2 linked regions of the Homo sapiens genome follow. The protein of the gene in region 2 purifies or fractionates together with the protein of the main gene of each other region. This does not show direct contact. Each region holds a gene or a part of one and is shown on either strand. Other genes may lie near its edges.

Region 1 (3,651 bases), on a different chromosome or scaffold from region 2:
GAAGGAATACTGGAAGCCAGACAAGTATATAGGGAATGCCTGACAACTTAGCTCTCAGAGCCCCCATAAAAGAGATCTGTTATATATATACCGGATTACTCAGCTGTTCTCATAAAACAAGCACTGGATTCTATCTTAATTGGAAAAGTTACTTAGAGGTCTGCTTTATTCCCCCAGGAACCATAAAGCCCTCTGCCTTAGCATGCCATGTCTCCTCCTAGAGGACAAGGACTGTCACTATGTTGCACAGGGAAAGGCTGCAGGTCTAAAGGTGACTGGACTTCCAACCGATGCCACTGGACATTGATGACATGTCAAAAATGAACCAGGCCAGTGCAAATTCATCCCCCTCCATCCACCCCCAACAAATAAATGAAGACAAAAACTTCAAAGAAGATACACTACTTAATAGGAAAACAAAAGAGTTTCATACAAGAGCACAGCATTATTTATTCACAAATCTATTGCCAGTAGTACCCAATGCCCTACTACTCTTATTAGATCTATATGCATAGATAAAAACAGTAAGTCTTAGTATTTTAGGAAGTATAGTTTTTCAGAAAAAAAGATGTCAGGGTTTTATTTTCCCAGAAAGACAGATCACCTGAACAAGATTGAAGAAGTCATTATCAAATAATATTCTTTTTTTTTTTTTTTTTTTTTTTGAGACAGGGTCTCACTCAGTCACCCAGGCTGCTGGAGTGCAGTGGTGCAATCATAGCTCACTGCAGCCTCAGGTGATCCAGGCTCAAGTGATCCTCCCACTTCAGCCTCCTGAGTAACTGGGACCACAGACATGTACCACCACACTCGGCTAACTTTTTTCTAATTTTTGTAGAAAAGGGGCCTCATTATGTTGCCCAGGCTGGTCTCAAACTCCTGGGCTCAAGCTATCCTTCCACCTCGGCCTCTCAAAGTGCTGGGATTACAGGCACTGAGCCACTGAACTTATCCTCAAATAATATTTATTTGTATCTTTACCTAGTCCGTCAAGATGATTTGCGATACAATGACTAGTCACCCAGATCCTCAAAAGATGACAGTATTGGACTCCTATACCCCAGAAAAACAGAAAAACTAGGGCTGTGAAAAGGAAACATCCTTGGATTTATTCAGTCAAATAAATGTTTATTATACACTTGCTATGTCCCAGGCATTACCCTGAAGAAATGACAGGAACAAGATTTTGTGACCAGAAGCTCAAGAATGACTTTGGCCTTCAGGAGAGTGATCGTAGCTGAAACCAGACAGCACTGGGATGGGTGAGAAGTTGGCTACAAACAACTATTTTAAGAAATGTGGCAGGAAAGTGAAAAAGAGAGGAATTTTAAAAGGGCAATGTGAAATCAAGGGAGGATTCTAGTTTTTTCTGTTTTACTTTATTCTTGTCTGTCTCTAAGCATGTATAAAGGCCAACAGAAGGAAGGCTTTAGTAAGACATGAACACCTGAGTGAAGTCCTCACAAAGGCGGGGTAGATGGGATCCACAGCCCAGGTAGGAGATTGGTCTTAGCATAAATACAACCTCTTCCACTGTGACTGGGGAGGAGGAACAGTTTTTGGCAGGAAGCCCCTGCGATTCTCCACTTACATCTCTTTCATTTATGATGTAGGTGGCAAGACCGCTTGCTAAGAGTGTGTGTAAATGATGTGAAAGGATGAAAGGTTCGAAAAGCGTGAAAATGCTGAAAAGTACATTCTGCAGAGATAAGAAGCGGGTACTGATGAGGAAAATTCTGGAAGATTCCTTGATGGCCCAGCTGAGCTGGTGACCATGGATTTATAGGGGCACAGATCTGGATACTGTGATTTTCCCCAGCTGGCCCCAGCAACTCAGGTCAAGCATTACAGGAGGCAGAGAGTTGAGACTGCCCAAGGCTGAGAAGCTGCCAGGCAGATGCTACAGAACAACAACGATACAACTGAGCACACTGGCATGACAGTGACTGAAGATCACAGAAGCGCCTGATAGATGCAGTGGGGGTGAGTGAGACTGAGAAAGTTGAGGGACTATAAGCAAACAGTGGGAGGCCTGCACTTTGGATTTCAGAAGTGGACCAGTTCCAACACTGAGGCAGTTCGGTGTTACTCTTCCAGCCCCCAGCACTACTTCTCTGGCAACAGTCGGATCCTCCTCCAGACAGCCCTACTTTCTCCTTCTGTCCTTTCTGGTTACTGTTAGCTTCCCTTTGCTCCTCACCACTCCTTGTATATTCCCTAATCCCCTCTGCACCTTTCTTCATTTGAGCTATCTGGCATGACTTCTGATTCCTGCTGAGACATACATCATTATCATTCACATGGGGTTTTCATTAAAATTAAACTAAAGCCAAACATGGCCTTTTGTCTCGTTTTGTCTTTTGCTAAAATTATAATACAATGAAAGTTAAATCATATGCCCTCCAAAATCACAAACCTTTAAAATGAGAAAAGGCCTTTAAAAATTCATCCATGCTTACAAATGAAACGAAGGGGCAGCCTTGTGCAAAGTGGCACTGTTAGCAAGCAGTAAAGGGAAAAAAGCCTTCAACGCTGCACTTGTCACTGAGTGCTTAAGATGTGCCGGGCACTAGTCTTGAAGCTCTCTGGATCCACCCTGAGCAGCTCACCTTCTCCTAAGCTGAAATCCAGTCTTCCCCAGTCCTGTGTCCAGTGTTCGTTCCATTATTGGCACCAAGATTTACTGTGGAAAATATTACATAGAAAAACTGATAAACCCAAAAACAAAAATAAAGCAAACTGGATGATGTATTTTTAATCTGAAATGCTACCAAGGGAATTAAGGTAAAGGATGTTCAGGAAGCTTTTGAGCTGGCCTAATAAAACTTTCCAGGAAAAACAAACAACAAAAAAGAACTGTCTAACAAATCAGTTCCAAACTCTTCTGCCTGTCAGTCAAGGCACTCCACCCATAATCCAAAATGCACTCACTTACCAGCCCCTGGGCCTTTGCTCCTGGTATGCAGCCCAGGTGTTCACACGCCTTCCTTCATCAAGCTCTTATCATCAAAGCTTCCCAATTACTCTAGCCCCAACGGATCCTTCCTACCTCTGAGCTTCTGCTGGACTTACACTCAATACTACAGAGTTTAGTTCTTAGCTATTCTTTAATTGAGAGGGCAAAAATACCCCTTATGAATCCAGGCTAATATTATTTGATTTTTAATATATGTGTCAGGCATACAGTAAGACTGGAAGATACAAAAATAATTAAAACTAATCCCGATCCAGAATGAGCTTAGTCTTTTACTGGTGTATGTAAACACCATTAATAATATTGTCCCTAACACAACACAAGTGCTATAAGACAAGTGCTAGGTGGTTATAGGATTCACTGAGTTGGAAAATTTCAAGGCAGGAAGGATTTCAGAGATAATCTAACTGCATGTATTCTCTGAATACACAAAAAAGGAAACAGTCCAAAGCATCTAAGCAACTCAGCCAGTACTATGAAGCAGACCAGATTAGACCAAGGACCAGTGTATAGTTGCTTTGACGCCTAAGCCAAAAATACCTTTTGACTCTGTGATTTTCAAATTGAGATCAGCCAGGCACAGTGGGTCACACCTATAGTCCCAGCACTGGGAAGCTGAGGCCAGCGCATCACTTGCATTCAGGAGTTCAAGACCAGCCTGGGCAACGTAGGAAGAC
Region 2 (3,409 bases):
CTCCTCTGCTCGCCGCCCGCCGCTCCCGCTCTGCTACACCGGCCACCGGACGCCCAGCCGGCGGGAGCCGTCGCCGATGACGTACGTCCTCGGGCGCGCGCACGCTCTTACGAAAGCGTGGGGCTTCGCGTCAGTCTCCGCGGCGGCGCGCCCCCGAGGCCACTGGGAGCGAAGCCAGGCAGGGTTGAGGGGGCGGTGTTCGTGGTCCTGGGCCCGCCCCCTTCCCAAGGCCACAGCGAGTTGCTGGGCTTCAGGGGCTCCAGGCGGCCAGGGCGGCGGAGACTCTTGCTCACGGCCTGGGCGCGGAGACGTGGGGGCGTAGCCCGCGGCCTCGGGAACGCAGTCTGCACAGAGGGCAGATGCCTGCATAGGCGGGGCGCAGCCCGTGTACCAGGACGGGAGCCAGGATACTTTAAGCGTGTCACTCTGCAAGAATTCCCTCAACCCTCGTGGGCACTTTTATTCCATCCCACCTTCCCCAACACACACAGACTCAGGCGTCCGGCAGCCGTGGTTTATTCTGCGAGCAGCAGGGCTCGGGCGCAGGACCCCGAGGGCAGGCAGGAGGCCGGCGCGAGCGCGGGCGCGGGCACTAGGCTGAAGAGGACGCGGCGGCTCGCGCGGGGCGACGGCGGCAGCGCAGCCTGCAGGGAGCTGAGCGCGGCCAGGTGCTGCTCCCGGGACAAGTCCCCGCGCAGGCCCAAGAGGGCGGAGACGTGGTCCTCGCTGCAGGGGCACCAAGGAGGCGCGTCAGCCCCGTCCTCCCCGCCCTCCGGCTTCTCTTCCCTTCTGGCCCCCAGTCCGCACCTCACGTCGGGAAATTGTTGCCGCAGGCCAGCCACCTCCAGGCCCAGCAGCGCGGGGTCGCGGAGGTTTAGCAGCTCCCTCAGGGCGAGCAGCACCGGCGCGCAGTGCGCGTTCTCCTCCAGGCCCTGAGCACGTCGGGGTAGGGTCTCGCGCCAGCCCTCTCTCCCACCCAGCCACTGAGACTCTCGCCCGTCTGCCCGCCCAAGAAGCTCTCACCAAACTGAGGAAAAGCTGCTGAAGCTGGGCAGCATCGTGCCGCAGGCGCTCGGCCGCCTGGGTCCTCTCGTCGGCTCCGCGGCACACCAGGCGGCCTTGCATCAGCGCGCTCAGGTACTGGAGCACCACGGCACGCTCGGCCTCAGCCAGCAGCAGCTGCGGGGAGGCAATCAGGCGGGTGCAGGTCGCCTCTCACCCGCGCCGCCCCTTCCCCAATCTTTTCCCCCAACCCACCTGAACCGTGGGGTTCCGCACGCGCCAGAAGTCCCGGCAGAAGCGCCCCGTCCGTTCACACACACTTTGCAGGAGCTCAGGGCTCGACAGCCATTGGCGCGAGGGCAGATCCGCGAACAGGGGCTGGGGAAATGATCCAGATCTGGCATTGCCGCGGAGACCCCCATACGTAGCTGTACCGCCACCTCTCCACCTGCTCCCATCCTGACCTGAAGGAGGCCTCACCTGGAGCTCCGCCTGCAGCGCCTCCAACACCAAGCGGTAGATCCTCCTCTGCAACTCGTCCAGCGCAGCTTCCACTGGAGCCAAGGCCCCTGAAGGCGCCCCGTCCAGCTGCAGGACAGACACTGAGGAGCTGGACCAAGCAAAACTACGGCTTCAGGACCAAGGCCAAGGCCCGCATGGCCCTCGGTGGTCCAGACCCTCCGGCGCCACCTTGTGGGGCAAGTGTTTGACGGGAGGGAGCGAGAACAGCGGCTCTCTGCACTTCTGGTCCCAGGCATGGACCAGGGCTGGGAGACGGGCGCTTGGCGAGCTGCAAAGGACACAGCCCAGCGAGACCTGCCTCAAATTCGCGGTGCGTCCTTGAGGAAAACATTCTTTCGGTTTCTGTTTCCTCATTCGTAAAGGAAGGGAAGTATCCCAGTGAGGAGGGAGTAAAAAATCATCACTTGTTTTCCTTGCCCCCACCAAAAAGAACATACCACCCAAGAGGAAGGGAGTGTGTGTGTGTGTGCGTGTATACACACAGCTGTAACCCCAGACATTACTGGCACAGAGTAGGGCCTTGAAATATTTGCTGGACGAATGAACAATTGACACCATGTGCCAGGCACTATGGTGGCCACTTTACATGTTATCTCATGTGATTCTCAGAACATTCCATTAGTACCCCCATAATACTAATGAGAAAAGTGAGATTCACAGAGATTAGGTAACTCATCCAAGGTCACACAACTAGTAATTAGCAGAACTAGAATTGGAACCCCAGGGCGATGTGAGTCCAAAGTCCCTAGTGTCCTAGTGTGGGCTGAGCCCATACATAATAGGTACTCAATAGGGGGTTAGTGAAGGTGGGGTTCCCTGGGGGCCTTCTGGTACCTGAGTGCTGACTTGTGGTTGAGGGCGGCCAGTAGGTAGGGCACGTAATGAGGGGCCATTGATTTCCCCCTGAAGTGGTCTCGGGAGAATCGGATCAGAGCATCACTGAAGCTGCAATGGGCAGAGGTGGCTCCTGGACTTGCTGCTATGCTGGCATCCCCACAGCCCCAGTCCCTGGTACTCCTGTCCCACCTCCAAGATACCCAAGTCCTTGTTTGAAAGAGCCCTTTCCCTGTGACATGTCTTATTCACTCAGAGCCCCTTTGGGCTGCCTGGGGAGCAGGGATAGGGATCAGGAATGGGTCAGTGCCTCAGCAAACCTCCTCAAGAATGTGCCCAGTTCTGACAGTGCCATGCCATGCACTCGCTGTTGCAGTGACTCACTGACCAGGCTGGCCACACGAATGTTCTCTTCCAGGATCTGCAGGCAGAAATGAGCAGCCATCGGCAAAGCCTCCCTCCTTCCTCTCCTCCCCACTGCCCCATGGAGGCTGCCTGCCTGTCTGGCCACTTCCCACCTACCTGCAGCACAATGGCTGGCATTGGTGAGTAATAGGAGCCAGACGGGTCTGTGTTGGGCCCATGCTCCCGGCCCCACTCAGCTACCTCCCCATCCAGTGCATTCTGCAGCCACTGAGACACACTTGCCTGGGGGGAGGGGCCAGGGGCAAAGGAATGTAGCAGGGATCTGACCCTGCTGGAGATGGGTAGACATTCCACTCTGCAGATAAAGGCCCACAGCAGATAAGTAGGACTTCTCTGGACCTGTGCCTCAACTACTCACCTGGATGTTGGCCACAAATGTTGCCTCCAGCTGCTCAATGTTCTCCAAGGTCAGAAGGGGCTCCAGCTGGGACACATCAGCCTCAGGCCCCAACTCCAGGCTCCCCATCATTTCCTGCCTGGAGATAGGTGGCCTGGTGTCACACCAAGCCACCAAGCCCCCAGCCTCTGATCCCCCATGTCCCGCTGCCCCAAAGGCACTGACCCCAGGTACACATGCAGTGCCCAGTGCAGCAAGGCGAAGGCATCCGCAGCTTCTAGCTCAGGC

Evidence for each region.
Region 1: the proteins of EXOC3L1 (region 2) and EXOC2 purify together in Homo sapiens (affinity purification with mass spectrometry; one large-scale study listed by BioGRID and IntAct). This does not show direct contact.

Annotation. Positions count from the first base shown.
Region 1 is NC_000006.12:686,530-690,180, forward strand, and holds part of EXOC2 (exocyst complex component 2), read right to left. Parts: intron 2,684-3,651; exon of another isoform or gene 2,610-2,683; intron 1-2,609. UniProt on the Homo sapiens protein: Component of the exocyst complex involved in the docking of exocytic vesicles with fusion sites on the plasma membrane.
Region 2 is NC_000016.10:67,183,879-67,187,287, forward strand, and holds the end of EXOC3L1 (exocyst complex component 3-like protein), read right to left. Parts: coding exon 3,347-3,409; intron 3,261-3,346; coding exon 3,143-3,260; intron 3,007-3,142; coding exon 2,881-3,006; intron 2,780-2,880; coding exon 2,679-2,779; intron 2,470-2,678; coding exon 2,359-2,469; intron 1,613-2,358; coding exon 1,483-1,612; intron 1,381-1,482; coding exon 1,258-1,380; intron 1,180-1,257; coding exon 1,024-1,179; intron 933-1,023; coding exon 808-932; intron 727-807; coding exon 516-726; 3' UTR 501-515; downstream 1-500. UniProt on the Homo sapiens protein: As part of the exocyst, may play a role in regulated exocytosis of insulin granules.